4 linked regions of the Homo sapiens genome follow. The protein of the gene in region 1 purifies or fractionates together with the protein of each later gene. This does not show direct contact. Each region holds a gene or a part of one and is shown in the gene's direction. Other genes may lie near its edges.

Region 1 (5,644 bases):
CACTAGATTGACCAGAATGGATTCTTGTATTTTTTTTCTTACCATAAAGTTTTATAGGCAAAATAGAAAATTTCATTTTGCATATAGGAAACTCTAAAGCATTTTGCATAATAATTGATGGTACACAGGGTAATTCCCACATTTGAAAAATTGTTAAAGGAAGTGATTTTTCTAGAGTTTTGATTAACAGCTTTAGTTTCTTGAATTATCTGTGCTCTTGTTTGTTCTTATAATTAGAGAAAATTATTTTTATATAGGTAACAAAATCAAATCAAGGCATATCAGAGATGAGAGTATATGATGTACAAATATTTCAAGTGACAAGATCAACTGTATAACATTTTGTTGGTTGTCCTATTCTGTTTGTATTTTTCTCAGGCTCTATCAAAGAAAGCAAGAGATGGAAAATTGTTGCCTGAAGAATACCAAGGAGGATCTTTTAGGTAAAATTTAAACTCTTAATTATCCATAGCATCAAACAGATAGATGTAAGACTTATAAAGTCCCTGTCAGCCTTTCATTTATCTGAAATATTTTTTAAAATTTAAGCTAAAAATACTTTATTTAGACAATAGAATATCTGAAAAAATTCTTCAGACTAGTCAGGCTTTCATATTAAAGCTAGTAGGAACCTATTAGTGTTGAACTAAACGTTCGTTGGACATTGACTAACATGGAATGATAAATATTATGTATTCTTTAGTATCTGACCCACCCCCAATATTAATGTCTGTAATATTATATTGCTATGTGAAACAACCACTTATTTATTATTGCAGCATATAATATTCTATTGTATAAATATACCAGAATTCATTTTACTGTTGGTGGGCATTTGCGTTGCTTCCAGTTCGGGGCTATTACAAATTATGGTGCTATGAACATTCTTATTAGTGTCTTATAGTGAATGTATGTACATTTTTTGTTGTATAGACCTAAAAGTAGAATTCCTAAGTTAGAAGCTTTAGCAGCTACTACCAAACAATTTTCCAAATGGTTATACAAATTTACACCTCCACCAACGGTCCTGAGAATTCCCATTGCTCCACATTCTTGCCACTATTTAATAATGTTAGGTTTTAAATTTTAACAATTCTTGGGGTGTGTAGTGGTACTCTTTGTAGGAAAATGCAAATTAGTGATGTTGAGTACTTTTCACTCATCAGCCGTTTGGGTATCTGGTAATTCATGAGATAAAGTACCCACTGCAATCTGGTGTCCATTTAAAAAAATGATGTATAGTTCTTATTTCTGGATATACAGACCTTTATAGGATATATATTGTTTCAAATAGCTTTCACACTCTGTGACTTGCCTTTGGGACTCTCTCGGTGATTTTTTTAAATGAACGGAAGTTCTGAGTTTTAATGAATTCCTATTTATCAGTATTTTTCTTTGTAGTTGGTACTGTTCATTTTCTGTTAGGAATTTTTGCCTATCTCAGAGTCATGAAGTTACTCTTCTGTGTTATCTTCTAAAAGCATTTACGTTACTTTTCACATGTAGATCACAATTCAACTGAAATTGGATTTTGTATATAATGTGAAGTTTCAAGTGCTCTTTTTTCCCCATATGGATACTAAATTTACACAGCATCATGTATTGAATATTGATTTCTCCTTTTTCATAGCATTGAAAAGGTGATTATATATGTGTTGGTCTAGTTCTGTGCTATTTTTTTTCCACTGGCCTGTTTGTCTATCCTTTGTTTACTACCACCAAGCTATAACTCTTGATAGCTGGTAATGAAGTCTTCCAATTTTGTTCACCCTCAAGATTGTCTTCTGGCTTTTCGTATTTCCAAATAAATTGTAAAATTGATTTGCCATTTTTCACACACACACCCCTTGCTGGTTTCTTGATTGGGATTGCATTAAGTCTTTTGATGATTTGAGAATTGACATCCTTACAGTATTGAGTATTCTAACCTGTGAATATGGTAGAAACCATTGTGTATTCAGTTATTTGATTTCTTTCAGTTATGTTTTATAATTTTCTGTGTAGAGGTCTTGTATATGTTTCATTAGATTTATTCTTTGGTATTTGTTTTTTGATACTATTATAAATGGTATTGTTTTAAATTTTTATTTTCTAATTATAGCAACTTGTATGTAGAGTCATGTGCCACTTTATGATGGGGATATGAGAAATGCATTGTTAGGCAGTTTCATCATGCAAACATCATAGAGTGTACTTACGCAAATCATGCAAACATCATAGAGTGTACTTACACAAACCTAAATGGTACATGCTGCTACACACCTTAGCTGTATGATATAGCCAGTTGCTCCTAGACTGCAAACCTATACAGCATGTTACTCTACTGAATACCGTAAGCAGTTGTGACACAATGATGAGTATTTGGGTATCTAAACATATCTAAGCATTTTTAAAATGTACAGTAAAAATGTAAAAAGTAAAACATGGTACACCTGTTTAGGGCACTTACCGTGAATGGAGCTTGCAAGACTAGAAGTTGCTCTGGAAGAATCAGTGAATGAGTGAATGCTTAGGACATCACTATACACTACTGTAGACTTTATAAACACTGCACACTTAGGCTACACTAAATTTATTTTTAAAATAAAGTAATTGCAATATGATGTTATGACAGCTATGATGCCACTAGGCAGCAGAAATTCCTGAGCTCCATTATAATCTTATAAGACCACCGTTGTATATGTGATCCTTCGTTATGTGGGACATGACTCGATATAAAATGGATTGTTATATTGACCTTTTATCTGATGACTTAACTAAATTTACTTATTAATTTTACTAGTTATCTATAGTCTCATTTTTCCTGTGTACACAATTAATTTATTTGTAAATACTAAATGTTTCCTTTTTTCATTACTCATATATTTTTTTCTTGCCTTACTACACTGCCTAGTAAAATATATAAAATATGTGCTTCACGGAAAGGGGACTTTGATTAAGGACATGCCTCCTTCAGAGCTTTTTCTTTTCCCCCTAGTATTTCCAACTTGGGGATGTTTGGCATCGACGAATTTACTGCAGTGATTAACCCTCCTCAGGCCTGCATTTTGGCGGTTGGGAGGTTCCGACCTGTGCTGAAGCTCACTGAGGATGAAGAGGGAAATGCCAAACTGCAGCAGCGCCAGCTCATAACAGTCACAATGTCAAGTGACAGTCGAGTGGTTGATGACGAACTGGCAACCAGGTTTCTTAAAAGTTTTAAAGCAAACCTAGAGAATCCTATCCGACTTGCCTAGTCCTCAAAGATAAGAAGTTGGTGTTCAGCTTAGTTGATTCAGTAGTTGTTACCAAGAAACATATGTTATAGGAAAACAACTTGGTATTTAAGTATGAAGTGGATGAAATGTTTATTTATTTAAGGTGAAAGCATTTGACCCAGGGTGTCTTCATCTTCAATTTGGGTTTAATGTTATAGAAATAAATGATGATAAACTCTAACTAATAAAGGAAAGAGAATATTTGGTTACTCAGATCCATTTTTAACCTCTGGTGCTGTATAAAGGGAATATTAAACTAGATGTAAATCAAAGTATATGTTTGGCTCATTTGAGCATTTTGGAATATTTGAGAATGTATGATACATGTAAAATTAAAAAAACTATTAGAACTGTACCATAATTATGTTGAAGGTAGAAGTGATCTTCAAAGAGATGGCCATTAACTTAGCAGTGGGACCTCACTTTTACAAGCACTGCTCTAGATATACTTGAAGAATTTAATAGGTACAGAAGTTTATTCTGGATAATAAATAAATAAGGATCACACTGTATTAGGGGTTATGGCAACATTATTGAATTTTTTATGTACATAAAGCCATATGTTTAGGGTGGTTTCTATCTGTCTTGTTTTTCACTTATATAACACTGTGAACTTCTAAAGCAAGAGGATAAAAGAAGCATGAATGAAAAGAATGACATTTCAAAAAAATGGTTCAATGAAAAACTATAGCTAAAATATGTAAACCTTTCTAGGTAAACCGCTTGCCTTCATCTTGAGTCGGAATATATTTAAATAAATTGTGTTATCTCTTGCCAAACATTTTGTTAGTGTTTATTTAAAAACAAAATGTTGTTTCTTAATGCATTTAAATCAGTTTTGTATTGTGCAGTAAAATGTGAGAAAATATAAACATTTCTATTGTATTTTAAATGTTAAAACACAAAAGTTCAATAAACCTTGAAGTTGATTAGTAGTTTTTCTAGAACACCTTTAAAAGGGCTCTACAGGAGAAAAGACGGAATTTAAAATTAGTATGACATTAGGAAAGTAACTGATAGGAAATGTAAAACTTTGGAAAGAGAATAGAAGACTTATGAAGCCAAACAGATGAGAACTATCCTTTTTATTTCACTAATATGAAATTTTCACTAATTATTATAAAGTTTAGAAGAGTTTGTTTCTCTCTTTTGGCAGCTCTGCTATAACTGTCAAGATAACTATATTTAAGTTGGATGGTAATGAATGGTAATTTAATTAACTTGTCACAAAAAGGTTTATGTTAGTGTCAGCTGACATGAATCAATAGAAGAAAGGCTAATATAGTACAAGTTGTATGGTATGACATGATGAATTATAAACCCTAACAGAAGAGCCTTCTAAAATAATTAGCACCCTGGTGTATTAATTGTTAAGAAAATGCTTAATCCAACTATCCAACTCAGTTTAACAAGCCATTTAAAAAAAATAGTCTTCAAAACTTTTGTCATATTAACAGTTACACTGAAAATTATAACCAAAGGCTATTTTCAAAATAATTTTTATGTTACATTATTTCCAAGGTCAGTTTTAATCGAAATTATTATTATTATTACTACTTTTTCTTGAGATGGGGTCTTGCTCTGTGGCCCAGGCTGTAGTGCAGTGCTGGGATCACAGATCACTGCAACCTCGACCTCCTAGGCTCAAGTGATCCTCCTCCCTCAGCCTCCCGAGTAGCTAAGGACTAAAGGCATGCACCATCATGCCTGGCTAATTTTTCTATTTTTTTTTTTTAGAGACAGGGTCTTGCCATGTTGCTCAGGCTGGTCCCAAACTCCTGGGCTCAAGTAGTCGACCCACCTTGGCCTCGCAAAGTGCTGGGATTACACAGGCATGAGCTACTGTGCTAGGCCGTTGTTTTTGTTGTGGTTGTTGTTTGTTTGTTCATTTTAATTTTTATATCTGAGGAACAGAACATGATGAGGCAGCCATAAATAAGCCTGACTCAGAGTTCTGCTTTTCATGAACTGACGTACATAAGCAGTAGTGCATCTGTTTCCCTATAGGTGAAATGGGCATTAATATTTACTCAGCCTGCCTTAGAGAGTTGAACTGTACAAGGGAAATCGCTGTATAAATTTAAGATGTTTTAATTCATGGACCTCACAACCAGGCTTTTCATATAATCACCTGCCTCTCATGGTTTGACTTCTCAGCTTCTGGTACAAATGCTTGTTCATTCTGACCAAAAATATTGTCTCTGGTATTTCTATACTGATGAGGTGGTTTAGATTAAGGAAGTTTTCATTTCTAAAAAGAATTTTGTTGTAGTTTGAGATCAAAGAATAACACTGAGAAAGGAGTATGGTATACTTGGTTTGAACTGTGTGCTACACTACCAGGCCCCTTCCACATTATACTACTAATTTATTTAAAATAGATAGGT
Region 2 (4,572 bases), on another chromosome or scaffold:
CCCTGACTGAGTGAGAGTAGCCTGGAGGTGGTGGGGGGTAAGTGGGGGGGGGGTAATAAATGAATCACAGTAAACAACAGGGGTCTGAAATCTCAGCAGTGGGAGGGGGTTAGGCTGGTGATCAGAAAAGGTCTCCCTGAGCAGGTGGCTTTCAGACTGGAACCTAAAGAATGAGAGTTCACCATGAAAGGAAAGATACTGCTGGCAGAGGAAACAGTTTAACAGAAACTAAAAGGAGAAGCACTGTCTCTTTCTGTGGGATTGTCATGTCAACAGAATCATAAGCCAAAGCAAAGAATGACTCTAGAATTTCAGGCAACAGACGATTGGGAGGTTTGCAAGGCTCATCTCTGTGGCCTCTTGTCCCCAGCAACAACTGTGTTTCACCATCCTTATGTTTCTAGATGGGAGTGAGTGTCGTGGACTCTTCTGTGGCAGGACTTGGAGGCTGTCCCTACGCACAGGGGGCATCAGGAAACTTGGCCACAGAAGACCTGGTCTACATGCTAGAGGGCTTGGGCATTCACACGGTAAGCCCACCCACCCCCTGGTGGCGACAGCCCCGAACTGACCAGGGGGCCTGAAGCTGAGAACAAAAGTGGATGGGGGTATTTGGGGTTGTTAAGGTGCTGAGGAGTAAAGAGGGAAAGGGTTAGCCAGGCGCAGTGGCTCATGCCTGTAATCTCAGCACTTTGGGAGGCTGAGGCAGGAGGGTCACTTGAGCCCAGGAGTTTGAGGCTGCAGTGAGCTATGATCCTGCCAGTGTACTCCAGCCTGGGTGAAACAGCAAGACCCTATCTCTTCAAAACAAAACAAAAGAGGGGAAGGGTGTTGGGGATTATGGATATTTGATCTAATATTTTAATGTTTGTGAGAGTAGGGTTGAGTGAGGCCACACGCATGGGCATAAGAAGGCTGGAGTGTCAGGGTGACTTTGACAGTTCAGTCCTAGGAGACACCAGGAACATGGAAGGGGCCCTGGGAAGGGTCAGGTTCATGACCTGAAATGAGTCAGTTCTCTCTTGGCTTTGTTTTGTTCTCTGTAAAATGAGGACAGTAGCGTTAGACAGCTCACCAGGGATCCGCCAGAGTCCACCAGGGCCCTCAGTGGCGGGACGGAAGCAGAATAGCATCTGTGCTTAAAGATCAGATGGAACTGGGTTTAAAGCCTACTCCTGCCACTCCCAGGCTATGAGACCTCAGACAAATTATTTCATCTCTCTGAACCTAAGAAATGGGAATAATAATGCCATCCATCTCATGGAGCCATTGTGAGGATTAAGTAAGAAAACGTACGTAGAGGGCCAGGCGCACGCCTGTAATCCCAGCACTTTGGGAAGCCAAGGCGGGTGGATCACCTGAGGTCAAGAGTTTGAGACCAGCCTGGCCAATATGGTGAAACACTGTCTCCACTAACAATAGAAAAATTGCTGGGCACGGTGGCTCACGCCCGTAATCCCAGCACTTTGGGAGGCCAGGGTGGGCAGATCACCTGAGGTCAGGAGTTCGAGACCAGCTTGGCCGACATGGTGAAACCCCATCTCTACTAAAAATACAAAAATTAGCTGGGTGTGGTGGCACGCACCTGTAATCCCAGCTACTCGGGAGACTGAGGCAGGAGAATTGCTTGAACCCAGGAGTCAGAGGTTGCAGTGAGCCAAGATCACGCCACTGTACTCCAGCCTGGCGACACAGTGAGACTCCCTCTCAAAAAAAAGAAAAGAAAAATTAGCTGGGTGTGGTGGCACACACCTGTAACCCCAGCTACTCGGGAGGCTGAGGCAGGAGAATCACTTGAACCCGGGAGGCAGAGGTTGCAGTGAGCTGAGAGCGTGCCATTGCACTCCAGCCTGGGCGACAAGAGCAAACTCTGTCTCCAAAAAAAAAAAGAAAGAAAAGTTATGTAGAATGCTTATCACAGAGCTGAGCACAGAGTGCACTTCAGCAAATATGAGCTACTGTATGAACAGAGGGTTTCTGTCTGGCCCTTTCAGTTGGTGTTTTTATCCCTCCCTCTCTGCCTCACAATTGTCACTTGAATATCAGTTTTTTACCTCTGTGGGCCAGGCCCTGTGCTGGGCCCTGAAGAGGGAGTACTGAACAAGACTGATAAGATCTGTGCCCTGGTAGTGGCACTACAAACCATGACAGAGATTGGGCATCTTACATGAGGGGGAGTCAGAGGAATAACCCAGGTGCCAGACAGACAGGAGCTCACAGGCAGCTGGTGCCCCGCTGTCAAGGAAAAAGCCTGTTTATCTTCACCTTTACTTTTCAGTATCACAGTTGTCTGTCCATGCTGATGTTTTCCCTGGTGTTGAGGGCATACCATGACTTACCGCATCCTCTAACTTGTTTCTCAAAGGGTGTGAATCTCCAGAAGCTTCTGGAAGCTGGAAACTTTATCTGTCAAGCCCTGAACAGAAAAACTAGCTCCAAAGTGGCTCAGGCTACCTGTAAACTCTGAGCCCCTTGCCCACCTGAAGCCCTGGGGATGATGTGGAAATAGGGGCACACACAGATGATTCATGGATGGGGACATGGAAATGAGAATAGGTTAAATGGTGCAGGTACCTCATAGCCAGCTCTACACAGAGGTCTCTCCTGGCAGAAAGCAGGCGAAGGGCAGGAGGAGCTGCTTGGCAGAAGGACCTCCTGCCCAGACCTGAGGAGTGAGAGGCTTTGAGGGCTGAAGTCTCCCTTTGTTACGGACCCTGGCCCAGGAGTTGAATGCCTGAGGACGTGTGGGAACCCCGTTCCCTACTTAGCATGATCCTTGAGTCTCCTCTCTGGATGGAATCCGCGAGCTGGCCACCTGGCCACCCTCTACACGGCTCCACCCTGCCATGGCCGTGGGGCCCTTGCTCTCTGACTTCTCAGGACACAGGTCATGGAGGTTCTTCCCAAGCTGGCAGAGGCCATTTGTGGAAAGTGGAGAGCTACGTGGTGGCCGTCTGCCAACTCCAGCATCTCTGGAAAATCTCCACGCTGAATGTGATTTTTGAAAACAGCTTATGTAATTAAAGGTTGAATGGCACATCATAATTCCAGCATTCGGTTGTGCAGCTGTGTGTATACATGCGCGTGGGGGAGTAAAATACTTTACCATGTTGCACTCTGAGAGGAAAATGGAGACTATGAACTAGTTTATTAATCTTTGGATTTCCTCCCTGTTTCCCCACCTGAGCCCCAAATCCATAGTGACTGGAAATCAGTGGTTTTGGGCTTACTCAGGAGGCTGCTTGCGGCAGTTGCTGGCCAGAACACCCGACGGGGTTGTTTCTGAGCTTTGCCTCTGTGACTGGGGCTATTGCACAAGCTCCCCTGAGGACACACTTGCTGCTTTGGGCCTCGGTGGCCCGGCCTCTCCCTGGCGCTCCCGGGCCCGGGAGCGCTCACCTGTCGGTTCCCTGGACTCTGCGGGCAGGCGCTGGCTGATTCCCGGCTGCGCGGACACCTGTGCGCTCCTGCATTTAGGGCTCCTTTGCTCTGGTTTCATCACGCAGGATGTCACATTTTGTGCATATTATTCTCTAGCTCTACTACTTTTCATTGTAAACAAACAATCATTTTCTAACCTGCCGTCGTGGAAGGCAGAGTGCAGACCGACCCTTCCCGGCAGGTGGGGGCTGAGAGCCAAGAGCGCTGGAACCGCTAGTGTGGCCTGACAGCTTCCTCCAGCTCCTTGGTTTATTTGCAAACTGGACTTCCAGCACCAGGCCCCCTGCGACCCCCTCCTGCCTTAGTCCCGTGGGATCGGGTAGTTCAAGATTTTGAATTCATGGTTTGGCACACACCGGCAAGTCTGAAAACCTGCGGGTCAGAGTGGGGCGGAGGCGTGGGCCCCCTACCCTCTGCCCCCTGCCCCCTCGGAAGCGCAGCCCTCTTCCAGGGGTTGGGACGAGCTAGCGCGGGGACCCGGGGCACCGGCAAGGACCCACCCGCTACTGGGACCTGGCGCCGGCGGCGCCTCTCGCGGGGTGGCACCGCCCACTTCCGCCTTCCGCGGGCGCGCGCTGCGCAGTCTTCGTCACAGCGCGGAGGCCTTTTGTCCTCCCGCCCTCCCCGTAGTGGCCGTAACCCGAGTGACATGTTTCCTTGGGGGCGTGGAGGGGCGGGGTCGGGGCCGGAGTGGGCCGTCAGCACTTAAAGGGCCCGCGGCTCGGGCGTAGGAGGCGGTGCCTCTGCAGCAAGCGTGGGGCGCGGGAACCCGAGCAGGTTCGGGAGACGGAATGAAGGGCCGGGTGGGCTCGCGAGGGGCCGGGGAGTCCGCGGGGAGCGAGGGAGTTTCCGAGGGGCGGGTCGTGTTCCTGGCAGCGTCCCTCCAGGGCAGGCCCGCCCCCTTTGTCCCAGTTCCCCGCTGCCCGGGCTGGGGCGGCCGGGGTTCATTCATTGCCGGCCTGAGGACTCCTAGCTCGGCCCCGCTCCGCGCTACAGCCCAAAGCCCAGCCTGAGACCCAGCCGCCCTCGTATGCCCACGGCCTAGCTCCCCTTCCCTCCAACAGACAGACTGGGAAAACCGAGTGGGCGACGGCTGAGCAAGGTCACTCCGCTGTCGGGGGCGCAGCCGGC
Region 3 (4,572 bases), on another chromosome or scaffold:
TCCCGCTAGTGCGAGGTCTAGGATAGGACCACGAGGGTGGGTGTGTGAGTTATCACAAAGGACAAGGTCATTGGAGAGAGAGCAAGGAACTGAAAGGTTAGGGAAGGATCATGTACCTGTGTGGATGTTGAGAGTACCCTGGATGATTTCATGGTTACAACCAAAACTAAACAAAACAATTGTGTTTCCAGATCTCTCACATTCTTTTCCTGTTTTGTTTTTTTTTTTTCTTTCTTTCTTTATTTCATAATTTCCTCCCAGGAAATACTCTTTAAAAAATATCTACTGTGTTTCTTAAAATAGATGGTATAATTCCTGCTAATGCAGTCTAAGGACATTTTTAAAGTCCTGAATTAACTACACTTGATTTTTAAACTTTAAAGGTACCTGTATCTAACTCAGTGTTCTCTCTTTTCCTAGGTTTTGACAAGCCCATATTACATGGATTATGTACATTTGGATTTTCTGCCAGGCGTGTGTTACAGCAGTTTGCAGATAATGATGTGTCAAGATTCAAGGCAATTAAGGTAAATGTGTATTACTACGTAATTTGAATATTACTTCCTTTTTCTATCTTTAGAGAAGAAAAGGGGTTTTAGTGATTTAATTGAAAATAGATATTGTACTACAGCAATGTACATTTTTATTATTTCATTGACCTGGCAATCAGCACACTTTCTTTTTGTAGCTATAAATAGCTCTGTTGCACATGCACCAGGAAGGATGCACAGTTGCAATTTTGACAGATTAACTGGGTTGCTTTATAAATTAATTAGGTGCATATATTATATATATATATATCAGTACGTATGCCTTGAAAACTCAAGATTTGCTTTTTTTAACTGTTTTATCATTTTCATTAATTTAATTAAAAATGTTAAGTGGCTGATTAAGTCCAATAAACATACATCTACAGCAATATAATGACTGCATATTGTTTTAACTCTGTACTTTTTAGTTGATTTCAAATTTTTATCCATTATAAATAACAAGGAAAAATATCCATGCCCATATTATTTTTGTGTATGTTTAAGCCAAAAGATGTACACTTAAAAAAGTTTAAGGGGTTGTCAAATAGCTCCAAAAGCTTTTAATTTATCCTCCATGCAGTAGTGAAAATATATTTTCTGATGCATTGCCTTTGATAACACTAATTACTCTCATGCTTTTCATTTTGTTACAACTATTTTTTATTATCCAGTAATATATACACAGAGAAAATAATATAAAAAATTATGAAATAAAAAGTGGAATTATTTTGCCCTGCATACTCACCCCAGGCCTCATTCCTTAGACTTAATTTGTACCACTTTTAACTGTTTCTTTAAGTTGTTCTGATGTACCTATATAACTCACCTAATATGATTATGGTTTTATTTCTTGATTTGTCAAGATAAAAAACACTATTTTTTGATTCCATACTTTGAAAGACAAAGAATTGGCTTACTTATATTAGTTACATCTTTATTTTACTAATTTTATCATATTATACTTAGGTCTTTTATGAATTTAAATATCTTTAAACCTTGATTTTTTTTTTCTTTTGTGCTCTCTAGTTTCCTTTCCAATTTTTTCCTCCTACAAGTAAAAGAGTTTCCTTTTAAAACATTTTTAACCCCACAATTCTTTTTTAAAGGCTCGTTTTGCAAAACCAGTATATCCAGGACAAACTCTACAAACTGAGATGTGGAAGGAAGGAAACAGAATTCATTTTCAAACCAAGGTATGAATTTTGCTTTTTCACCCTTCTCACATGCTTTATCATTGTGTTCCATCTTACCATTTTTTTTTGGTTAGTACTATGGATAGAAAGTTCTTTTTAAGTAATGGTAAATTTTAATTAAAAATAAGATACAGCTTGTCTGGTGTTTTCAAAATTTTTATTTATCAGGCAACACTTAATAAAATAGAAGTGTTTTGCACCCTGTGTTTTATTTTCTCTTTTATTTTCAACTAAATTGGTAGCTATCTATGTAGCAGTGGCCCAGCTATTCTGAAAACCCAGCCAACCATGTCTTTTTGGCTCAACTAGTCAATCAAGTCATTGTCAAAATATCATCTTAAAAAATTTAAAGGCATGACTCAGACAGATATACAGTGAAAACATGACAGAAATCTATCTGACTCATTAATGAAGGATCTTGCAATATGATAAAACATGTTCGAAAAAAAATTAGAACAACAGTTTATATGGTCCAATAGGAAAGTTATTCTAAAATAATTTTGCAGAGTTAGAGACAAAATTAGTTAATATCCTATAGAACAATAAAATCTTATCCTTTATGAGTTTTCTCTGGACAGAAATCATATGCATCTTGATTACACAAAAAATCCACAAATTAACAAGTTACATCACAGAGTCTGGGCCTAACAAATAGTAAATGAGGTTATTTTGGGGTGAGGCTGTTAGCAATGCTCCAGTAAAATACTAAAAGGACATGCAATCATTGTTTTATTTGCAAGTTATTAAAAGACAGTTTTTGTTAACACAGTTGACCAGGCTAATACTTTTTGGCTTGATCATTTCATGCTATATAGAGCATATTAAACAACTCCAATGATAATAGGAACAGCTTTCATTTATTGAGAACCTATAAACTGGCAATAGTATTTTCTTTAATATGCATAATAAATCTGTATGTAAATATAAGAAAATCTAGGTTCCTAAGAAAATCTAATCTAGGTGTCCTAAATAACTTGCTCATGGTCACACAGCAAGTGGTTGAGCTGGGATAGAAACCCGATCAGCATGGCTTCAAAGCTTTGATTACAGGCCCCAAATGTCTTTTCTGTATCATGTTTTCTTTCACAAATAGATAACTGCAAAATTCTTCTTACATGGTTGCTTTACTCCTAATTCCTTTCTGCTGGTTGCAATATCATTTTCCTGCTTAATTTGTACATATTGTTTATTTTACTTTTCAAATTCCTCCTGTCCTTCAGGCTTAAGTTCAAGCTCCACTTTGCTCTTAGAGACAGTCTCTTACTATTCCCCACTTTCCTACCCATAGATACACTCAAATTGGTGTTCTCTGAAAGCCTTTGCAGCTAATATCTGTGCCACATATTTTGGAGCCCTCACATTTTCTAATTTGTTTTGTATGAGTAAGTTTTGCTTTTTGATTAAGATTATGAACTCTAAAAGTGTTAAGGACCATGACTATATTACAGGTTTTTATTTTCCTGCAATTCTGGTGATGAATAGTATGTAAATAATTTCTATGGATACAAACTTGAAGGGCTGAGAAATGATTAAATGTCTAAATATAATGTATTCTTGCCATTTTGTTAAATTCTAAGCATGCTGTCTTATCTTTTCAGCATATTTGCTATATTTTTCTTCAGTGATTATAGATATTCTTTTTCTATTAGTTTTAGGACTCCTTCTCTCCCTGCCTCCTTTTCTCACTTTCTCCCTCCCTTCCTCCTTTCCTTTCTATTCTTAAGATATAAGAAACATTTTAAACCAGTGTTTTAAAATGATTTGCTTGATTTGGTAACAATAAAGTAATTTACTGAAGTGCATTTTGTTCATTAATTATCTCTTTCCATGCTTTTCAATGTATGTAATTTGAAGTAAAGTGAACAAATTACTTGAAAGATCTTTTTTCCTCCAAAATATGATGAGATGTAGTCAAGAGAATGATCTTCTTGATTGTTAAAAATCAAAGTTTTAATAAACGCTATGTTAAACTTTAGAAACTTATCCTATACATTTGTAGCAATAACAATTTTTATGAAAGAATAGCCATTGGAATAATTTGAAATGAAGGACTGGGAATTAGAATTTGAATTCCTTTAATGACTATTTTGATAAAAGCCTATTTAGACATTTAGTTCATGCTGTGTACACTTCCTCTTGAAATAAGACCTGGAATTACTACTTAAAAAACACTATTATGATTTGTTCCTAGCCAATTTTATTCTATATTAGCAGAACAAATGTACTTTGAGTACCATTACCTCATGTGGCTATTGTGCTATGCCTTTTACTATTTATAAGGATTCAGCATGGACTGAATTCTGTTTATAAGAGTGCATCCCCTGATCCCCACTTCCCCCCCAAAAAATGCCCAAAATACCAAGGCCCAGTCTCTATCAGTGTATTTACATTAGAATTTTGGGGGATGGGACCTCATAGGGTTTCTTTGTTTGTTTGTTTTAAAGGGCTCCAGCTGATTATAAAGCCAGGTTTAGTAACAGTTGTATTAAATCAGAAAGCCTTTATGTTTGTTCATCTTGACATTTACTTTAGCAGCCTTTTATTTTATCTGGATTATTATATTCTTTTTCATATGAGGCAAAAATAATAAATTTTAAACTTTGTACTGTTTCACAGTGAAATTACACTTCCATTGTAATCAGAATAAATCTTTTTTTTTTCTTCTCCTCCTAAGGTCCAAGAAACTGGAGACATTGTCATTTCAAATGCATATGTGGATCTTGCACCAACATCTGGTACTTCAGCTAAGACACCCTCTGAGGTAGGTTATAAAAATTAGTATCCAAGCCACTTCCTCATTTAGGAATTTCAGTTAAGGTGACTTTAAGAGTGGTTAGGCTACGTTAGAA
Region 4 (4,572 bases), about 99 Mb from region 1:
CTAAGCTTATGTCACAAGTGAGTGTGCCCCTCCCCCTAAGCTCATCTCACAAGTGAGTGTGCAGCTCCCCCTAAGCTCATGTCACAAGTGAGTATGTAGCTCCCTCAAGCTCATGTCACACGTGAGTGTTCAGCTCCCCTAAGGTCATTTCATGAGTGTGAAGTTCCCCTAAGTTCATTTCACGAGTGTGCAGCTCCCCCAAGCTCATGTCACAAGTGAGTGTGAAGCTCCCTAAACTCATGTCGCAAGTGAGTGTACAGCTCCCCTAAGCTTATTTTACAAGTGAGTGTGCAGCTCCCCCAAGCTCATGTCACAAGTGATTATGCGGCTCCCTCAAGCTCATGTCACAAGTGAGTGTGCAGCTCCCCTAAGCTCATGTCACAAGTGAGTGTGCAGCTCCCCTAAGCTCATTTCACAAGTGAGTGTCCCACTCTTCTCACCATCTACTGGCTTCCGTGTTCTCCCTGGAATCCTGGTGCCATGCTCTGGTGCTGACTTCTTTCTTACTGATGGCTTTAACTCTTGCCAGATGGTGACAATTCTCAAACCTGTTTCCCACTCCAGCATTTCTCATGAGCCTGAGCTCAGGTCCCCCTGCTGCCAGGACGTGCTCCGGGTGTCTCTGACTTACTCTGTCAAAACTCCCTCAGTCATCTCTTCTTTCTGCTCTTCATCTCCTCTTTCTCCCACAGTTTATGGTGCTCTTGCAGACTGGAGTCTGGTGTGTCAGGCTGAGGCTTTTGTTGGCAGGAAGTGTAGAATTTGGATCTGAATGACTGGGGCAGAGCTTGGCTGCCACAGGCCTCTGCAGGCCTGTGTTTTCCTCCTAGCCTGGATTGCCAATGTGTATTTCCCACCTGGCCTCTGGAGGCTTTTGACTCCAAGGATATAGACTCTGATCATATCTTGCCACAAGATCCTGCCTGTTTTCTCTTACCAATCTATCTCTCTAGTTCTGACCTTATTTAAGCTTATCCCATTTCCATGGTTTCCTTACCACCCTTTCTGTTTCTGGTTTCTTTCTGTCACAGGCCATGTACCACCTTGCTGCCAGAGCAGTCTTTCTTTCTTTTTCTTTTTTTTTTTTTTTTTTTTTGAGACAGAATCTCACTGCGTCGCCCAGGCTGGAGTGCAGTGGCGCGATCTCAGCTCACTGCAAGCTCCGCCTCCCAGGTTCACGCCATTCTCCTGCCTCAGCCTCCCGAGTAGCTGGGACTACAGGCCCCTGCCACTGTGCCTGGCTAACTTTTTTTTTTTTTTTTTTTTTGAGACACAGTATCACACTGTTGCCCAGGCTGGAGTGCAGTGGTACGATCTCTGCTCAGTGCAAGCTCTGCCCCCCTGGGTTCATGCCATTCTCCTGCCTCAGCCTCCCTAGTAGCTGGGACTACAGGCACCAGCCACCACGGCCGGCTAGTTTTTTTGTATTTTTAGTAGAGATGGGGTTTCACAGTGTTTGCCAGGATGGTCTCAATCTCCTGATCTCGTGATCTGCCCGCCTCGGCCTTCCAAAGTGCTGGGATTACAGGCATGAGCCACCACACCCAGCCCAGCAGTCTTTCTTAAGTACAAATTTGATCATTTTATTATATCTGAAACAGACTAAAGGCAGGTTGACTGTGAGGGGTGGCAGGAAGCTTTTGGGTGATAGATGGTGAGTGGTCTGTAGTGCTGGTTATTCCATATAGACTTTTGTCAAAGCTCATGGAAGTGTTTGTTTAAAATGGGTAAATTTATTACATATGTTATACTTCACTAGTGAAATCTTTAAAAACTATGCTGGTGGCTTCCTGTCATCTTCTGAATAAACCCTGATTCTTCTTTTTCAAGGTAAACAAGAACTTCTGGTGTGCCTTCCACCTTTCCCATACCTCCCTCCATCCTCACCTCTAACCTCTCCACTTCAAATTGCCATCTGCACCTCAGTTGCGAGCTGCCCCCTACTCGTGTGCTCTTGCCTCTGGGTCTAAAGTCTGCAGCGCCCTCACCCACCCATCCTCCCTTCTCCACACATCCTCAGGATCATCCATCAGATGGCCATGCACTCCTTAGGCATCCCATCTCCATACCTAAATTCCCTAACACCCTGCCACTTAACACCTCTTCCCTTGAGACACACACTTTCTAGAAGTGGCTGGAGGGCAGGGATGCTTAGCTTCATTTTGCATCCTCAGAGGGTTAGCTCTTTGCCTGGACAGAGAAGGTGCTTGATAATACTTGTCAAGTGAATGCATGGAAGCCACTTCTTAAGACTATTCCTGAACATAACATCTGCTCACATCTGGGTTTATTAAATTGCTTATTTCTCTACTTGTTGTCCTTCTGTTTCAGGAACTCTGATAAGACTTTTTAGAAATGAGTAGTTTACAAGGAAGAAACATACACTAGTGACTTTAAATGAGAAGGAAAAGAGTAGTTTCAGCTTCAGGAGGATAAATCTTGCATATGTGGGCTACTATAGTGCTTTTTTTTTAATTTAAAGAGATTCACTGGAGAATATTTGTGGTTAGTGATCATTCAAGGTAAAGTGTGAAGACTTGGTCAAATCAGGTACTATATATATAAATTCATAGTATTTTGTAGATGTGTACACAGAGAGAGAGACAGAGCTGGCTGTCTTCATGCTTAGCCATTTTTAGACCATTGTCCCTTCACCAGCAGGAATACGAAGTGTCCCTCTGGGTAGCCAGAACGAGCTGACTTCTGTTCCAAGGGGAGGGTGTTGAATTGAGGACTGAAGGTGGAGCAAGAGCCAAGGTCCCTCAGGGTCTTCTGTGGAGATTTGGGGCTTTTGTCAAAAGCTACTCAACATGTTTCTAATTCTTTTTCCCCATTTAGAATATATGAGTAGTATTTGTCCCCACCCTATCTTACAAAGCCTTCAGAGTGTTTTGAGGTAATGCTTACAAAGTCTCCCAGAGAAAAGCAGAGGTCCTCTACATCCAGTATCATAATGAAAAGCAAAAATAAACTTACATAGTGTGGTAGGGTGGCTCTACTCAAAGAACTAGATCAAGGAGAGGCCTGTCTTTCAGAAGTTCATACATCTAAAACATGTCTTTGTTTGTGTTACCAGGTTCAGAAGAGGAATTTCATAGAAAATATTATTCCAATTATCATCTCCCTGAAGACTGTGCTGGAGAAAAATAAGATCCCAGCTTTGCGGGAACTCATGCACTATCTCAGGGTAAGGGTGGAGCCTGTGCTTTTGTGGTTGTTGTCCTACCAGTTCATTACTTAGGATCTTCTGCCAGTTATGACAGTGCAGGCAATCCGTGAATGATTAGAACCCCAAATTCTGCAAACCCAACATTACCTTGGTAACTGCTGTGGAGCTAGGGGTTGGCTGTGGGTTCCACCAAAGCCGCTCTTTCCCTTGGATGTGCAGCCAGGGCCGTGAAGAGCCGGCCCACTGTGCCAAGCACGTCTTCCCTTAATGGAGTTCAAGTCCATCTGGAAAACTTTCCCAGCTGGGGTCAAGAACACAGTCATCTTCGTTCATGCTGCTTGGGGGTAAGGTGAAAGTGAGTCTTCGGGTTTGATTTCAGGGTGCTTACCTTTTGCACTGACTCAGATTCACAAGGTCAGGAAATAACTGCCCTGCAGGAGCTGCCTTCGGAGCTGCCATCACCAGGCTGAATTCTTTGTCAAGCAAGGGGACCATGAGGAGCTCAGTCGGAGCAAACCCAGGATGTGTTGACTTGCAGGGCGGACCTAAGTGGGGCCTCAGACCTTTCTTGCAAAATCTTTTACTAAGAAATAAATGCAACATAGTTTTTCTTTAATTCAGCAGTTATAGCTCTGTTCACATTATGTGTTTTTCTTCCTCAAAAAAATGCTACAATTTTTTTTCCAATAAAGGCCTCAACAAAAATTACATTGAATATAAATTTTCAAATAGCTTTTTATACTAGGAAGCCAAGGTAGGAAAGATAGTCTCATTGTATGATAAAAATAAAAACTTCCAAATATTCTTGTATTTATTGCCTGACTTTAGACCCTAGAAAGGAAAAAAAAAAACAAAAACAGAGCTTTGATCCTACATAGACTACTTAAACACTTAAGAAAAATAAGCCTTCCTCCTGCTTGTGAGCACACACACAGGATGGCCACACGTTGCTTGTTGTCAGTAGCTTGAGGGAGTCTCTTCATTGGCCTGTGGAACCCACTCCTAGTGGCAGCTGGAAAAGTGCATGGATTCCTTCTCTTTGTTGAGACTTCCCTCCCAGTTGGAACTGCAGTGTCTTTTTCTCCCTATTACTGTTAGGTGGAATGATTCTTTCTCTTAGCAAAGTGGTCTTGCCCCTGGCACCCCTCTTTAAGACCTAAGAATGTTTTTCCCTAGGTATGAGAAAAGGTTTTCTGTAAAATCTTCAGAAGAAGACACAAAGATGGGATTTGAGCCTTAGTTGGAATCCCCTGAGAGCCAATGGGGAGGCTAATGTAGACAGATGAGCAGCTTTTAGATCCATGCATCCTGGGACTTGCTCCAGAGGCTGTGTCTGAGCATGTCTTTCTCCCATTGGGAACCTGGGAGAGATTGCCCATTAACTGCCACATAGCCAGGATGCT

Evidence for each region. Proteins that work in one complex are often made in the same cells at the same time.
Region 2: the proteins of PDHX (region 1) and HMGCL purify together in Homo sapiens (co-immunoprecipitation; one large-scale study listed by IntAct). This does not show direct contact.
Region 3: the proteins of PDHX (region 1) and HSD17B4 fractionate together in Homo sapiens (co-fractionation; one large-scale study listed by BioGRID). This does not show direct contact.
Region 4: the proteins of PDHX (region 1) and NCAPD3 purify together in Homo sapiens (co-immunoprecipitation; one large-scale study listed by IntAct). This does not show direct contact.

The regions. Positions count from the first base shown.
Region 1 is NC_000011.10:34,991,937-34,997,580, forward strand, and holds the end of PDHX (pyruvate dehydrogenase protein X component, mitochondrial isoform 1 precursor), read left to right. Parts: intron 1-378; coding exon 379-443; intron 444-2,977; coding exon 2,978-3,236; 3' UTR 3,237-4,192; downstream 4,193-5,644.
Region 2 is NC_000001.11:23,800,358-23,804,929, reverse strand, and holds the end of HMGCL (hydroxymethylglutaryl-CoA lyase, mitochondrial isoform 1 precursor), read left to right. Parts: intron 1-404; coding exon 405-530; intron 531-2,365; coding exon 2,366-2,467; 3' UTR 2,468-3,045; downstream 3,046-4,572. UniProt on the Homo sapiens protein: Mitochondrial 3-hydroxy-3-methylglutaryl-CoA lyase that catalyzes a cation-dependent cleavage of (S)-3-hydroxy-3-methylglutaryl-CoA into acetyl-CoA and acetoacetate, a key step in ketogenesis. Terminal step in leucine catabolism.
Region 3 is NC_000005.10:119,525,497-119,530,068, forward strand, and holds part of HSD17B4 (peroxisomal multifunctional enzyme type 2), read left to right. Parts: intron 1-420; coding exon 421-527; intron 528-1,636; coding exon 1,637-1,723; intron 1,724-4,397; coding exon 4,398-4,484; intron 4,485-4,572. UniProt on the Homo sapiens protein: Bifunctional enzyme acting on the peroxisomal fatty acid beta-oxidation pathway.
Region 4 is NC_000011.10:134,160,396-134,164,967, reverse strand, and holds part of NCAPD3 (condensin-2 complex subunit D3), read left to right. Parts: intron 1-3,076; coding exon 3,077-3,187; intron 3,188-4,572.